2 separate regions of the Homo sapiens genome follow, and region 1 is linked to region 2. The links come from fine-mapping of genetic effects on gene expression. A gene starts in region 2. The other region holds a variant in brackets. All regions are shown on one strand. Distances are between the middles of the regions. Region 1 overlaps ANKRD34C-AS1 (ANKRD34C antisense RNA 1). Region 2 holds the start of ANKRD34C (ankyrin repeat domain 34C).

What was found. PIP is the estimated chance that this variant, and not a neighbour inherited with it, causes the effect.
Region 1: its variant is fine-mapped to the expression of ANKRD34C in tibial artery (GTEx, PIP 0.97).

The regions. Positions count from the first base shown.
Region 1 is chr15:79,220,176-79,228,511 of GRCh38, forward strand. The region is part of intron 1 of ANKRD34C-AS1 (ANKRD34C antisense RNA 1); the gene reads right to left. Among named protein-coding and RNA genes, the nearest start is that of MIR184, 15 kb to the left of the region's middle. The variant A/G (reference allele first, on the strand shown) is at 3,722.
Region 2 is chr15:79,278,168-79,286,503 of GRCh38, forward strand. It overlaps ANKRD34C (ankyrin repeat domain 34C), which reads left to right and starts at 4,555. Exons shown (of 2, transcript NM_001146341.2): 1 at 4,555-5,061. It overlaps ANKRD34C-AS1 (ANKRD34C antisense RNA 1), which reads right to left and starts at 5,778. Exons shown (of 2, transcript NR_038997.1): 1 at 5,482-5,778. RefSeq lists an enhancer at 4,490-5,029 and a silencer at 4,681-4,879.

The DNA of each region.
Region 1 (8,336 bases), 58 kb before region 2:
AGAGATTGGTGGTTGGAGGTGGTGACCTTGACCTTCTGTCTTCCTGGCTGTAGTCCCCATGGCATCCCTTTTTCCAGAGAGTTCCTCCCAGCTCTGGTCATACAGGGGTAGATGAAAGTCTGGAGACCAAGCAGATACCTAACCAGGGAACCAAATCTAATCTTTGCATTTTGAAAGCACTCCCCCAGATTTAAATGTTTTCTTGGGAGAGACACCCTGTTTCCCACCCCCACAGGGAAGAGGAGGATGAAAGTCTCTCTTCTCACAAATATAGTGTTTCCTGAATAGTGCCTGTCCCCATGTCCTGTCCTCCTCTCTGTCCAGGGGGCAAGGTAGGGGGAATTATAGGGCTTAGTCTCCAAAATGGCATCTCTAAATTGACCCTCTTACCCAGTGGCTGACCCCATTGCTGGTGGTGCTCTGGACTTCCAAAGTGGGGTAGGTGCCACCATTTGTTCCCAAATGTCTCTTTTAGTTGACATTTCAGAGCGACAAGAAAACTCCAACCAGGCACCCTATTACACTGGAACATCCTTTTGTAAAGGGGTCCTCAGGGGCCATTTATGAAGAAGCCAGGACATCATCCCAGGCCTCCCGAGTCAAGGCACGGTGCTCTTGCTCCACGCCAACCATCTCTCTGGGATGTTTGTAACTCAACCACTGTGGTGCTGCAGGAACAAGGTGTGTGAGCAGGGCTGGACTGGGCATGTGGTCATTACCATTATGCTAACAATTTGGGCCCCTTTAAAACACTAGTCTTCGCTACTTTTCTCAAAGTTACTTAGAGGAGAGGCTGTGTTTTGACAAGGAAGGGCAGAGAAGAAGGATGGTCTGTGGCACAGCCTCATCTCTCTTGTATTTCATGCTTTAAATCTGCATAAGCCTCACTAGCAAAATGCACCTTGTCCTTGGAGGGCAATCTCCTGCTGTTGGAACACTCCCAGGTTCCTGACAGCCTGGGGTAAAAGTGGGGTATGCTTGAGTTCTGCTGTTTATTACAAGATGGCAAGGCACCCCAGCCCCACACTTTGCAGGGGCCTCTTGGACGTTCTGAAGGCTCCTGTCCATTGGAACCTTGGACTTTGGACTTGATCTGGGGCTAGAAGGGGCTCTTTGTGTGATCTCAGGGTCTCTGCTTCCCCATCTAAAAAACAGCTGGGTGATTCCTGAAAACTTACAGCCAAAGCCCTGAGGCCCTCAAACTCTGGGCCTCTCTCTTGGTTTCCCTGCCCTTAACTACAGCCTCCACGTCTGGGCCCCGGACCCTGCCCCAGACCTCGGTCCTCTCTCCCCTGGGGGCTGCTTCGGCCCCCATTTACCTCCAGAACCAGCTGCATTGAGTGCACCTGTGGCCTGGTGTCCCCCCTGTCTGTGGTACCCTCACCCCCCAGACATTCTGCCTAGAGTTACTTAGATGCCCTCTAAGACCAGGCTTAGCAGATCAGCCCCTTCTTCCTCTTCATGTGCTCCATGTCCAAGCCTGACTCTGGGACACCTTTAGCTGGTGACCTCTGGAGTTTTGTGGCCATCCAACCTCCAGGCCACTATCTGTGGCCCTAACCTCTAGCCCTGAAGCAGGTCTATTTTCCTGCAGAAGCCCATGATGGGGCAGGGCCACTCACAGCATTGCAGGGAGCTGTATTGGGTGCTCAGCTTGAGGCTAACACATGCAGTGGCTCTTTCAAACCGGTCCAGCAGCTTGGCCTGCATTCCCGTGCCCTTCTGTGTCTTGGGATTGTACATTTACCATTCTGTGATAGCTCACATTCTTGATGACATCCTGTAGAACCTCTCATTGCAGAATATCCTGTAGTTCCCTTTGTGATTAACTGCAGTTAGAGCTGAAATTCTTCAGCCTCCTCATTTGTGTTATTAAGGGCTATAGAGCATTGGAGTTTTCCTTATCTATTGATGTGCCTGCTCAATGGGCACCTGCCCTCTAGCAGAGTCCCTTGTACCAAGTTCGGGAGCCTTTGGTTCTGATTGCCTGGAGCTGGGACTCTCAGCAGCATGTCTGATTTTCTAGAAGAACCCAGACGACAAATCCTTCTGAACTGGGGGTAAATTACCTTTGCAGGCTGACTTTGTTCATCCCTCCTGATAAAGAGTCCTGCTGATTATTGAGATGTAGGTTGTTAGGGTGACAGGAAAGGCCCTGAATTGGGCAGGGGTGATGAATGGATGCTGAAATGTCTTGGGAAAGCTTTTGCCTCTGAGCTGGGTTCAAAATTTCTCTTTGACTCTGCTCATAATGCTGGCGACCGTTTTGAGGTCAACAAAGTCTTACGGAGCCACACTGGCCTGTGATTCTCCTGCATTTACCTGGGGGCTCCAGGCAGAGAGGGCTGTGTTCATTGTCTTAAGACCTCCCATCATCCTTTCCTCTTTCTATCACTTTTTTCCCCTCTTTCCTCAGCTCTCTCTAGGATGGGGTACCTACCCAGGAGAGTGTATATTCCAGCTTCCCATTCCCTGTTCTTTGGTTGCAGTTTCAGATATCCCGCAGCGTCCAGATGCGGGGAGCCTGCTAAGGGAGCCTCCCGAATCAGCCCTGAGTAAGGAGTGTTTTTCTCAACCCCTCTGCAAACATCACCAGTCCTGAGAGGTGGATTATTCTGTGTGAGTGTGCCACGTATATTTAGTCCTTTCCATTCTGCATCCTAGCAGGAGGATGGGGCACTTTGGCAACCTCTGCCTCTCTGACTAGTCTTCTCTCTGGTCCCCCTTCCCCCTGCCCCACGGACTGTGATTCCCACCAGCCCTAGGACCTGCAGGAGCCCAGCCAGCCCTAAATGCCTTCTCTTTAATGACCTGCAGTGTTGCCATGGCAACAAGAGATTGTTTTAACCCCAAAATTGTCTTCATTAAGCTTCATTTGGAAACTGCTTGAGCTGGAGTCTGCAAGCTGCATCTTTAGGCAAGTCCTATAACATCAAAGAGTCTCTTTGGGTGGGACTCAAAATTGAAAACCGTCAGCCAGAGCTTCTAAGAAAATCCACCTAGACAGAGGGCCCTTATTTTGGGGGAGGGAAATTTGGGAACATTTCTGTTGTCGAAGCAGCTTCTCTAGGCAACATTTCATGACTCTGCATACAGCAGGTGCCCTATTGATGCTGGTTGACTTGAGTGGGCTGGCCTTGAGCACTAGCCCGCCTTCTCCATTGATTTCCCAGAAGCGATTAGGGCGTCCCCACCCTTAATTAGTCAGCCAGCTAGATGCCAGTGACTACACCAGGCACTGAAGCGGGGCTGCAATAAAGCAGGCAGGAATCCCGCCCTCAAGGGGCTTAGGGCAGTGGGAGAGTGAGGGCATGACTCCATGGCCTGCACAGAAGGCCAAAAACTTCAAGAAGCTTCCAGAAAAAGCATAGCTCCTAGTGGGACCCTCCCCTGCTTAGAATATTCCATGACGTTCACTGATCATGAGACAGTCTAAACTCCTCATCTTGTCAATCAAGTTTCTTCAAGCACTGAGTTGTTTTTTTACCCTTTAGTTTCCATTTTTATTTTAGTATACCATTACACAGAAATTGCACTAATATATAAATGTTATAAGCTGTACACAGCTTATGAATTTGTTCTTTGTATAAACCCCAATTCTTACACACACACGTGCCCATATAGCTGCCGCCCAGGTCAAGATAAATTTTGAGGGACAGAGTGAAATGGCTCTAGATTATATGCTGTCCTTCCCCCTGCCTTTCAATTAAGTCTAAAAATG[A/G]TGTGGTTAGGAACAGACGATGCTTATTCTGGATTCGTTTCACATTTTTTCCTGTAAAAAATGTGGTAAAGACATAACATGAAATCTACCCTCAGATTTTTAAGTGTACAGTGTAGTTAACTATAAGCCCAATGTTATATAGCAGATCTCTAGAACTTTGTCTTTTTTAAAATAATTGTTATTTTTTTTGAGACAGAGTCTTGCTCTGTCGCCCAGGCTGGAGTGCAATGGCCCAATCTCGGCTCACTGCAAACTCCACCTCCCGGGTTCAAGTGATTCTCGTGCCTCAGCTTCTCAAGTAGCTGTGATTACAGGCATGCGCCACCACGCCCAGCTAATTTTTGTATTTTTAGTAGAGGCGGGGTTTCACCATGTTGGCCAGGCTGGTCTCGACCTCCTGACCTCAAATGATCCACCCACCTCAGCCTCCCAAAGTGCTGGGATTACAGGCATGAACCATCATGTCTGGCCTGTTTTGTTTTTTAGAGACAAGCTCTCACTATATTGCCCAGGCTGGTCTCAAACTCCTGGGCTCAAGCAATCCTCCCGCCTCAGACTCCCAAAGTGTTGGGATTACAGGCATGAGCCACCATGCCTGGCCTCTAGAACTTTTTTTTCTTGCATAACTAAACTCTGCACTCACTGAGCAACAACTCCCATTCTGCTTCCCCTTTGGCAGTCACGACTCTACTTTCTGCTTCTATGTGTTTGCCTACTTTAGAGACCTCATGTAAGTGGAATCCTCCAGTATTATCTTTCTGTAACTGACTTGATTCATTTAGCATAATTCCTCCAGGTTCATCCATGTTGTCGCATGTGGCAGGATTTCCTTCTTTTAAGACTGAATAACATTCCATTGTATGTATATACCACATTTTGTTTATCTATTTATCCCTTGATGAACATTTAGGTAGTTTCCACCTCTTGGTTATAGTGAATAATGCTGCAGTGAACATGGGAGTGCAAATAGCTCTTTCAAGATCCTGTTTTCAATTCTTTAAATAAATACTCGGAAGTAGTATTGCTGGATCATATGGTAGTTCTATTTTCAACTCTTTGAGGGACCTCCATACTGTTTACCACCACGGCTGTACCAATTTACATTCCCACCAACAGTGCACAGGGACTCAAATTTCTCTACATTCTCAACAACACTCATTATTTTCTAATTATTCATTATTTGATCACTAATTATTTGATAATGACTGTCCTAATGGGTGTGAGATGATGTCTTACTGTGGTGTTGATTTGCATTTTCCTGATGCTTAGTGATAATTAGGTGAGTTCATATACCTGTTGGTCATTTGTATGTCTTCTTTGGAGAAATGTCTATTCAAGTCCTCTGCCCATTTTTTAAATCAGGTTATTTGGTTTTTGGCTGTTGAGCTGTAGGAGTTCCTTATATCCATGTTTGTACTTTACTGCTACCTCCCTGAAGCAACCTTTTCACTCCTGAGGGAAGTGAGAGATTGAGGTGATGGCCAAATCGCATGGCCAGCAGTAGGGGTGGAGTTCCACCTCCTTCTTATTAAAGCCCAGGCCATTGTGAGCAAACTTGTCCTTCTAATGGGCAAGCCGAGAAACCTAGAGGCTGGGCACAGGGTGAGGAGGGTGGGGTGAGGCTGTTCTGGTCCTAGGGCTCCAGTCGATATTGCTGTGCACGTGATCCCAGACAGCTGGGTTTCCTCTTTCCAAGTGCAGTCTACCCAAGGCTGAACTATTGGAAGCTGTGCAGGGACAGGGCAGCAGCTGTGGAGGAGGAATGACAGAGAAACTGCAATGACACCTTTGATTCCTTGAAAATAAATGCCTACGTAAAAGGCATGTGTGAAACTCTCAAAGGAGCATATGGCTGGAGGTTGTGCAGCAGGGTTGGGGGCGTGGGGCAGGATTTGGAATACATGGCCATTGATGAAGGGTGTTTTCAGGGATGCTGGGGTGGAATGAATAACGGGAAGAGAAACGAGGTTAAGCTAGCATGGCTTGTTCCTGACGAACATGCACTGGTTCCTAGTAATCACCAAAAGTGCCTAGTAGCTATTAATCTCACAGATAGGTCTGGAATCTTGCTGAAATGGGTATCACATTTGCAGGGCCATAGTGGTAGCACCCTCCTAAGTCTTTTTTTTTTTGACAAATGGGACGACCACTTAGTAGCAGGGTGGCTTTGCTAAAGTTTCTTTCTGTGTAAAATGGAGATGGTCATAACACCTACTTCATAGCGTTTTTGGAAGAACTAACTAAGAGAATCCATCAAAATCCCTTAGCAGTGTGCCTGGCCCATAGGAAGGGCCTAGTAAATGTTACCTATTATGATGATTATTGTTGTTATTACTGGTTACTGATAGTAGTTTCATGATCTCACTTGCAAGATTTTAAAATTCCATTTAACAGTTAATGAACTTGATCTCTGGGCCAGGGACTGTAATAGCCATGGTCAGGGTGGAGAATAGTATAGGACAAGCTTCTTGCTCTATGGGATCACAGGGTCTAGAGCAGGTGATAACTACACAGGTAAATATCTTGAATTCCAGGTGGATGGTAATAAACGTTCTGGGACAGAGGAATAAACAGAGAGCAAGGGCTGGGGGCAGAATCCCTGGCCCCACTCTGGGTGGGGCTGATACAGAGAGTCTACCTGTCTATCTTTTTTTTTTTTTTTTTTTTGGAGTGACAGTATTTCTGCGTCTCTGCTGATCAAGCTGACGTACAGCCAAGCTGCAGCTCACCAGTTTGGCTCAGTTATTTTTGGAATGGTCCTGTAATAGTTTTGCTTATATGAGTGCAGGGAAAGCTTAAAAAATGTCTTTCCTAACCTACAGTATGCCTCCTGATGTACCCAGAACCACTAATTGGATGCCAAGAGCTTGCTTTCCTGCTGAAGAAAATGTCAGGCTCTAATAATATTCCATTATTAGGCCCACATAATTTCCTGCCTGGACAATTCTAACAGCTTCCTCACTGGTCTTCCTGCTTCAGATACATTCCTTATGGCCTATCCTCAACATTACTGCAGTGCAATCGCCATTTCTCTACTCAGAGGACTTCAGTGGTTCTTTGTTACGTGGGTCTGGGAACTAAGAGGTGGAGGGAGAAGTGGTCCTACTTACATTACTCCCAGTTAGTGAATGTCTGCATCCTGTTCCCACAAGTTTGGAGTCTGTGAGTCTGGAGGTCTTGACCTCAGGTTGGGGAAATGATTCCATCAACGGCTATACAAGTCCCATTAAATTTCATATTATGGCTGCTGCATGGTCACTGTGGGCAATTTGTGCTGACAGAAAAAGAAAGGAGTCACCATTCTAGCTGTGGTAATTGACTTCGATTAGGCAAAACTAAGGCTGCTGTCATCCAAAGGGGAGCAGAGAAAAATGTGTTTGAGACCAAAGTGATCCACTGGGGCTTCTGTCAGTACTCCCCTGTCCAATCTTCATGGGAAATGGTCAAGTATTGCTGCCACAGCTTGAGAAAGACATAATGACTTGGGGTTTAGACCACAGGTAACCCACAAAAGGCAAAATGCCTAGATCAGAAGTGCTCACCAAGAGTAAGGGGACTCTCAGATGCATAATAGAGAAAGAAGATAATAAGGACCAGTCATGTCATGATCTTGAGGCCAGTGGCAATGGCAACGCTACAGTCCAGCCAATTACTTTATTTTTGTGCCTTTCCCCCAGGAAAAGAGGCCCACCAGAATCCTGAAGGAGCTGCTCTCAAGACTTTTACAAAACAAGTGGATCTGAGTGGCACAACGGGTAGACTGTAGTGGATGCTGTCATTTGCCACCCAGATTTCTTCCACCTTTGAGACTGAAGCACTTAAGTCTTCTGGCTACAGGGAATGTTGAATGTTAGCAGCTTTCAGCTAAGTCCCTCTTCCCAGTGATTGTCCTTGGCTAATCATAATTATGCCCTTGTCTATTTAGGGATCCCATTACAAATCCTTTTATTAGGCCATCACATGCATTTACCCATTTTACTTAAAATGCTAAATATATGAAATTTCTTTGCAAGCTGTAAGTTATCCGATGCTTTTAAAGGATGTCAACAAGGTCAGGATTAAGGAATGGCCATTGCTGGTCATCTCTGGGCTGGCTGTCACACCTACTTCTAAATTAATACTCCTGGCTCTCAGGGGACCTGCAGGTTCTTTTCTCATTCCTGTCCCAAGAGCATTTATGTTCCGTTTTTCTCACTCTTCCCACCTACACCTTTAAAACCTCTTCTTTGGAACAGCAGACTTTACCTCCCACTCCAGACAGGTTTCTGTGCTAATCTTAATTTGGCAATCATCACTACAAATTGGATGTCTATTCAGCACCTCCTACACCTCTCTATTAACTCCAGTACATTAACAAATACCAAAATATTCATGTAAAAATATTTCTCCATTTAGAGAACATTGTACTTTATTCCAGGTTCCTCTGTTTAATGCCATCTGATAAGAGCTGACTATAGATCTAATTATAATTTTACTGTAACCTGACATTTCTCTGTCAGACATGCAGTGAAAAGAACTCGGAGCTGGGACCGAGAGAGGAGACAGGTGTGGAAAGGTGGTGGAGTATAGAGGAACACGTAAATTCCCTCTCCATAAAATTAATAAAAAAATTGAA
Region 2 (8,336 bases):
GATAAAAGGGACTGCTGTGACTGTGTCCGCCCCTTCCATTCTTCCTATCTGGAAAGTGGATGCTACACTTGGAGCTATCAGCAGCCTTCTAGCAATCTCAAGGGGAAAGGCCATGAGCAGCACTGCTGGCCTTAAAGTTCTAAGCCTCTGAACCATCATCTCCAACTGCCTACCTTCAGACTTTTAGTTATGCAGAGAAAACAAGCCCTCTAGAGATCTGTTACATAACATTGTGTCTGTAGTTAACAATACTGTATTGTACACTTAATTTGTTAAGAGGGTAGATCTCAGGGTCAGTGTTTTTACTACAATTAAAAAAAGAAAAGAAAAGAAACACCTCTTTGTTTAAGATGTGGCTTTATGTTATTTGCATCAATTGTGAGCCAGTTTAAATGTGCAATACAAATATTTGGAACTAATTTTTAAAATTAAAAAGTGGAATAGAAGGATGGTAAAAAGAAGTCCATATTTTATGTGTGTTTTCTAGAACATACCTGTAATACATTGTGATAAAAATCTAGTAAAAGTTATGTTAAAATTTACAATATTCTGGCACACATCTAATCACACAATGCTGGTCTCAAGAGACCAGGCAGGCCTTGTATTGAATTTGCCATGTGATTCTAGGGACACACCTCCTCCTCCTGGAACTTAACCTCCCAATCTCTGTGAATTCAGTGAATCAGATGACTCTTGCTGACAGCTCTAAGGAGCTCAGTGCTCACCTCTGAATCTGACTTTCTCTTCCCTATGGATAATGACTGACTGGTAATATACTCTGGAGAGGGAAACTGCTCAAGAGGTCAATAAAGACTTTACTTTCACTGACTTAAAACAGAGTGCACAGGGAACCATGGCACCTGGGATCACATCATCATTTTCTTGTAGGTGGTAAAATAACATTTGATGTGATTCTCTTCTGATCCAACTGCCTGTGTAAGAGTGGGTCAACCCTCCCCCAAATCTCTCAACCACAGCCCAAATTCCATCACACATTCTTTCTAGCACCCTCTTAAGTGAGACACCCCACGATTACCCATGGTATGTGTCCTCCCTCACTGCAACAAGTGATACAGCCAATTTGTTCAACTATACTTGAGTCCCTGGTGGTCTTAAGCTGGAGGGCATTGATAGTAGTAGATATTCAAAGCTTTTATTACTATTATTAGCAATTTTTTTAAAAAAAAAGTACTATTGCTGTTGTTGTTTTTAATCAAGTAGGCCTAGCATGTAAGGTGCATCTCTGAGGAAGTAGCTGAGATATCCATAAGAAAGCAGACTTGGAATAGGTTGCAAAAGTCCTTTTGCTTCATGGAACAGTGTGAGTTGATTCACTTACACACATACATACACACACATCTCCAAAGAGATGCTGACAAGTCTTTAGAATGCTCCTTTGCAAAGGCAGAGAACGTGCCTGTCTTATTCTAAATCTACAGCACTCCAAAAGAAGGCAGATCAGGTCACATAGCACAGACTCAATAGTAGATTTTGGCTGAAAACCAAAATGAATTCAAGCCTCCTAGGAGACCTTAACAGTTTAATTTAAATACTGATAGATCAGGCAGATAAGCGTAGTTAACACATACAGGGTGCTTACTCCCTATCAGACACTGTGCTAAACATTTTACATATTTTACCTTAGCTGCCTCTCATCCCAGTTGTAGAAAGTAGATACTAATATTAACCCAATTTTATGGACACAAAGGCATTTGGTGTCTCATCGGAGACACAAAGGCATTTGGTGTCTCATCAGAGACTATGCAGCTGGTGAGTGCTGGAATTGGGATTTAAATACAGGCAGTCTGACCCCTGAGTCTGTGCTCTTAATCAATACACTATACTGCCTGTAGTCCAAAGTAAAGATGTAAAGGTTGCTGATATGGTTTAGCTGTGGTCCCACCCAAATCTCATGAATTGTAGCTCCCATAACCCCCACATGTCAAGGGCAGAGCCAGGTGGAGATAATTGAATCACAAAGGCGGTTTCCCCCATACTGTTCTCATGGTAGTGAATAAGTCTCATGAGATCTGACAGTTTTGTAAACGGGAGTTCCCCTGCACAAGCTCTCTTGCCTGCCACCATGTAAGATGTGACTTTCCTTCTCCTTTGACTTCCATCATTATTGTGAGGCCTCCCCAGCCATGTGGAACTGTGAATCCATTAAACTTCTTTCCTCTATGAATTACCCAGTCTCACGTATGTCTTTATTAGCAGTGTGAGAGAGGACTAATACAGGTACTAATGTACAATTAACTTTACAGGTGTACTTGTATTGTTTGTGCCCCAAAACACAGAATGTACATTTTTTTTCTACATTAAGTGTGAGGGAAAATGCTTGTGGAGTATTTTTTATTTGTCATATAAATAGACCACAACACGGAAATGATGTAAATCATATAATTCAACTACAGCAAAATAATATTAATGAAAAATAGTGGGGGAGAACACAACATCAGGAATAAAAAGGGGATATAGGAATAGATTTAAAGGAGATGAAAAATTATAAAGGAGCATAATATGTAACATTATGCCAATACATTAAAAAAGGTAGATGAAATGAACTTTTTTCCAGGTAAATATAAATTACCCAAAATTGACTCAAGATGGGTCAGATGATGAATATGCCAACAAGCATCAATGAATTTGAAAAGATAATCAAAGATCTATCCTTCTAAAATCCATCAAGTCCAGACAGTTTCATGGGTATGTTCTATTAAACCCTCAATGAACTGATAGTTAACTTGATAATTTAAATATTCCAGAGTGTAGGAAAAAACAGAATGCGTCCAAAATCATTCTATAAGGTTACCATAACCTTGCACCAAAGTTGAATGAGAACCCTCATCCCCTAAAAAGGAAAAAGAACACAATTTTTACTTATTAATATAGACGGAATAAACCTTATATTAACATAAGTAAATTATTGCAATCTAGCAGTGTATTTGTATAAAATAACATACATTAACCAAGTAGAGTTTGTTTTGAGAAATATAAAGTGTTATAAAGGTGGCATTCACATCAGTGAGCGAAGAATGGACTTTTTGAATTGGTGTTGGGACAATTGGGTTCTCATCTTTGTCAGTTCCTTACCTTACCCTGTGCACAAATACAGTTTCCAGATGAAATGGTAATCTAAACAACAGAGCTATACATTACTAGAACATTTAGGGAACTGTATGGTGATTCTGGGGTACGAAGCCTCCCTAGGCAAGATGGGAAATCTAGAAACCATGCAAGATAAGACATGTGTTTGACTACATAAACCTTGAAACTGCTTTAGAGAGAAAAACTCCACAAACAGTAGGCAGTCATTATAAATATTGGGTACTAGGAGGGTACATTTCTCTAAGTGATACTATAGACACACTAAGTGATAAAGGCAACTTATGGAATAATATTTTTGCCCTTAAAAGATAAAATTGATAATCCTCCAGCAAGCTTGATTTAAAAAATTGGGAATGGAGCAGTAGAAAACACAAATAAATAATATCAGCAATAAGGAGGCCCAGAACAGTTTTAGAGATGAAAATAAATATAAGGTGACACTATTTGTAACTTTGTGCCAGAAAATTTGAAAATGTAAATGAGATGGACAATATCCTAGGAAAATATAAATTACTAAAAATGACTGAAGAAGTAGGGATTTAAAAAACATAGGGCAAATAGAACCCCTGTGTGCATATACATGTATCTAGACGAAAATGCTGGTTACCTCTGGGGAACTGATTAGTGGGGGAAGGACACTGCAGGGTAGGGGAGGAGGGGGCACTCACTTTCTATTTTTTTTGGAAAGCATTTTAGTTTTTTTTTTTTTTGTAGAGACTTTTTTTTTTTTTTTTTTTTTTTTTTTTTTTTGGTAAGTCTCACTATGTTGCCTAGGCTGGTTTTGAACTCCTGGCCTCAAGCGGTCCTCCTACCTTGGCCTCCCAAAGCGCTAGGATTACAAGCATGAGCCACTTACTTCCTAAATACAATGCCTTATGCTTTCAATCATATGCAGCAACTATTAACTACTTTGTAAAAAGGAAACGAAGATTGTCCGCGAACGACTCCACAGGAGGCCCTGGGAATAGGTAGCGGGTGGGCTAAAACATTGATTTGGAATGAAATCCAACGGCCGTGGAACCAGCCCTGATCATCAAATTATTCCCAGTTTTGAGGATCGCACTGCACCCTCCTCTCTCCCTCTCTTTCCTACACCTTGGACAGACAGCCTGAGATTCCAGGGCGTGTGTGAAGGAAAGCCGAGGAGGGCAGGGCCGCAGAGAGAACAAAGGGGACACGAGTTCAAATTCCTGCCAGGGTCTGAGACCTGCAACGTCAGACTTTGGGAGCGTCCCCTCACTTCTCCGGACCCCAGGAGTGGCCGCGCCTGCTCCGCGCTCACCCTCGGGGAGTCTAGGAGCCCCCTGCTAAGTTGCTGAGCGAGTCGGAGCCCCAAGAGCTAGGGTCGAGGGGGTGGGGCAGCAGGCGCCTCTGCCGAGGCTGCAGGTAGGCACTTCCCCACCCCCGCGGCCCCCTCCTTCCTCCTTCCTCGCAGCTCGCACACCCACACAACCCTCGCCCGTCGCGGCTGGAGAGCTGCTCTCGGCGCCAGCGGGCAGCAGCGCGTCGTCAGCCAGCACAGCCGGCCGAAGACCAAGCCGGAGGTCTGGGGCTGCGCAGAGACCTGCACACCCGCAGCGCGGAACCGGGGGCGATTCCTATCTTTCTTTCATGCTTCTTTCTTTTTCTTAAAACCAAACCAAACCAAACCAAACCCAAAACTCCCCTGCTCCCACCGCAACTTGGAGGAGCGGTGGACCGATTTGAAGGAACTGACGCAGAGGTTTTATTCACGAACCTTGAAGAAGTTCTGGGCAAGTGACTCAACAGGACCCGCGGGGCCCGGGGTAGCCCCAGCTCCCGGCGCTGGTTCAGTCTGGCAGTGCCCTCTGGCAGCCAACCCGCAGCTGCAGGTAGGGGTGCTGGACGCCCCCTGATTTTGTTTTGGGAATAATAATGACACTACCTATAGCCTGGACCCAGGTGGCCTCGCTCGGCGATTGTCCCCACCAGGTAAGCGCACCCCCAGGGGTCTGCATTGGTCACCCGGGTGGGGACCTCGAGCTCCCGAGAAGTCGGTCCATGCTGTTTAGCCACAGGCAGGAGTGGGGAACTGGTAGGAGACAGCTTGCTTTTATCACAGGAAATTGTGGGAGACGGGAATGGAAGGCGGATTTAACATTTTTTATTTTTGCATTGACGCGTGGGGATGAGATGCGTAGGGGCCTGGATTCTTGTAGGAAATGGTTGCGGAGCGGGGCTGGGTGATAGGTGTCTGGATTTTTGCAGGGACTGAAGGGGAAGAAAGGTCGTCAGTTTTTGCAGAAACCTGTGAGGAACTGGCGGTGAGAGGTTATGATCCTGAAAATGTGCACGAAATTGTAAAAAGTAGGCACCTAAGCATTTCTGAGAAATGATGGGAGAAGCACTTACCGCCCTGGTTTCACCTGACCCCCATGCTCGGCCTTCTGGAAGATGCCCACAGACACTGGCAATAATGGACGCTGGCACACTCTGCCGGCGCGGCCGGAGCCCCGGAGTTCAGCACCTCGGACAGAGCCCGAGCCCCGCCGCCCGAGGCGCACAGTGAGCGTGGAACAGCCCGGCTCCCTAGCCCCCGGCCAACGCTGCTCTCAGTTCAGGGCAGCTACGTAACACCGCCCCTAGCTCCGCGCCAGAAAGGGCTCTCGAATCGCAAAAGCAAACGTGTTCGATTTCTGATCTGCTTCTAACTGCTTCCCGTGACTGCAGAAGGAAGAGGCGGAGTGTAAAGATATCTCCCAAGCTTCCGCGAAAACTACAGGCAAACTGTGTGGCCTCCCCGGATTTCGGAAGGTGTACCCAAACTTCTTTAAAAATCTAGCATTTATTAAGCGCTTACCATGTGCCAAGGCCCCGTGCTAAGCCAGTGCACCACAAATTTGTGTCCTATGAGTATCCCCATTTTACAGATGAGAAAACTGAAGCAAGAGAGGCCGAGTAACTTGTCCAGGTTTATGGAACTAGCAAATGGTATGGCTGCGCTCTTAAACGCTGCCAGATTGCAGTGGTGGGAGGATGTGCTTGAGTGGAATTCCCTGCGTGAAATAGCTCTGAACTTGGGATCAGAGGAACAGAGTTTAAATCAAAGCTGTAGCACTTAAAAACGTGTGCCCTTAGACAAAATTACTAAATGTGTCTGAACTTCAGATTTTAACTATCTGTAAATACTTGATAATGCTTTCCTTGCAAAAGTGTCAGGGGAGGGTGGCCAAGGAGATCATATGTGTGGAAAGACTGGCAAACTGGGAATTGTGGTTGGGTGTTAGGGGCTGAAAGGAAGGAGCAGGTAATTAGAAGAGAAGGAGAATTGGTGGTGAACACTTCCCTCAGCACACTCCAAAGGGACTGGGCACAGAGCGGGGCTCAGTGGGAGGAATTCTGGATGAGCTTAGTTCAGTGTGTAATAGCCTCTTAGATTTTTTAACAGGACTTTATAGAGAGTGTGGACATATTGCCTACCATTTGATCCTTATAACAATGTTGTTAAGTAGGCAGGACTGGGGTTATTCTACTTGTTTGGCAAAATGATGCTTGCCCAAAATTACTCAGGTACTTAGTAGCAGAGCTGGGATTAGAATCCAGATCTCCCGCCTCTCTAGCTTATAATCCTTCCACATGGACTGGCACATCCTCAGGAGCTTGAATTATGGGGCAGTTAAGCACTAAAGTGTATTTAGACAAGTACTATAAATATGTGACATTAATGGTTTTTAAAACCATTTTGAAACAGCAGTTTCATATGGATTAATCTCATAAATGTTTATTGATTATATTCTATTTTGTTCCACAAAGAATTTAAAGCAATTTAGAAGGCTCCACAAGATGTCAGGTTTGCACGTATTCGAAGTAGTCGAGAAAACAGAGGTGAAACAAGATTAAGGCTATAGCCACAGATAAAATGAATACAAAGTATGTATATTATAAAGTCCTAGAAACTTGCTCTGGTCTCTAAGTACTAGAAAGTGTATAACCAAGCACTTTCTTGGAGGTCTAGGAACTTTGAAAATGTTTGCAAAAGTCCGTAGACTCTTCTCTTTTGTATAATTCCATCCCTTGCCCTCTGTGAGATCTTCACTGTGCCAAACAAGGGATGTTTAACTGGAAATCCAATGTCAGTGTGACTTGAAGAAGGGGAAATAAAGTGTATGACATTGTATCTGCACTCAGGTAATTAAGTGTTAGTTACATAATTTATAATGGTTCACATGAGCAAACCATACTTTAAAGTTTATATAAAGGTTTACATCCGTTAGCTTATTTAGGCCTTCTAACAACTCTGAAGAGATAAGCAGCTACAAAATGACAGGAAGGACAAAATCCTAGCATCGCGATTTTATATATTATGTATTTTACTTTCATACACAAACCCGCATCCCTATACAGGCCAGTTAAGTAACCTGAATGTGTGAATCGGGCCAATTGTAAGACTACGGAGAATGACAGGGCCTTTTCAAACTGAAGAGTGAATAATCCATCTTAAAACATTCAAAGAAAATTTAAAGCACAGTGCCAGCCAAGCAAGACATGACTGTGGGCTACATCGGCTGTCAGACCTTTAATATGTAATCTTGGTCTAAACTACTCAGGCCAAGGATCTGAGAAGGCATGGGAGTGAAAGACCCTGGATTCAGAGAGAGAAAAGTTTCAATTCCTGTATTTAAGTTTCCTGTTTCTAAACATGGAAGATTGAACAAGATGGCTCCTCTCAGCTTAAAAAATATAAGACATCTTTACTTTTGGGGACAATAAAATAATCAAAGGACATCAGGACAATAATAGCAAACACTTGCATCTACTTATTGCCTCCATGAAAGAAGGCATCATTTTAATTTTCTGACACTGGTGATATTTTAATCTTCAGTATTTCCTCTCCAGCCCCTGTGCCATTGGAAGATATAGTGGCCACCATTATAGTGGAAATGAGTCCAACAGAAAACAGACCAGAGAGGTGAAAGTGATGGTGGGGGTGGAGTGGGGGTGGGGGGTTGGCGGGTAGAGACAGGGAGTACAGCAAGGGAGGAACCAGGCAAACTTTGCTCTCTTCTCAGTTTACTCTTCTTATGAAACACATGAAAAAAACCCACTTTATGGTTGCTAATTTTTAAAGACAAAAATATTCTGGCCAGAGCAGCCAAAGTGGATGGGATCTCAACATTCTAGGAATGCTTCAGCTTTTTTCAATCCAGATTGTTTCTTTTCTCTCCAACGAGCTTAGAGATCTTGTAAATCATTTAATATTTCCAGTA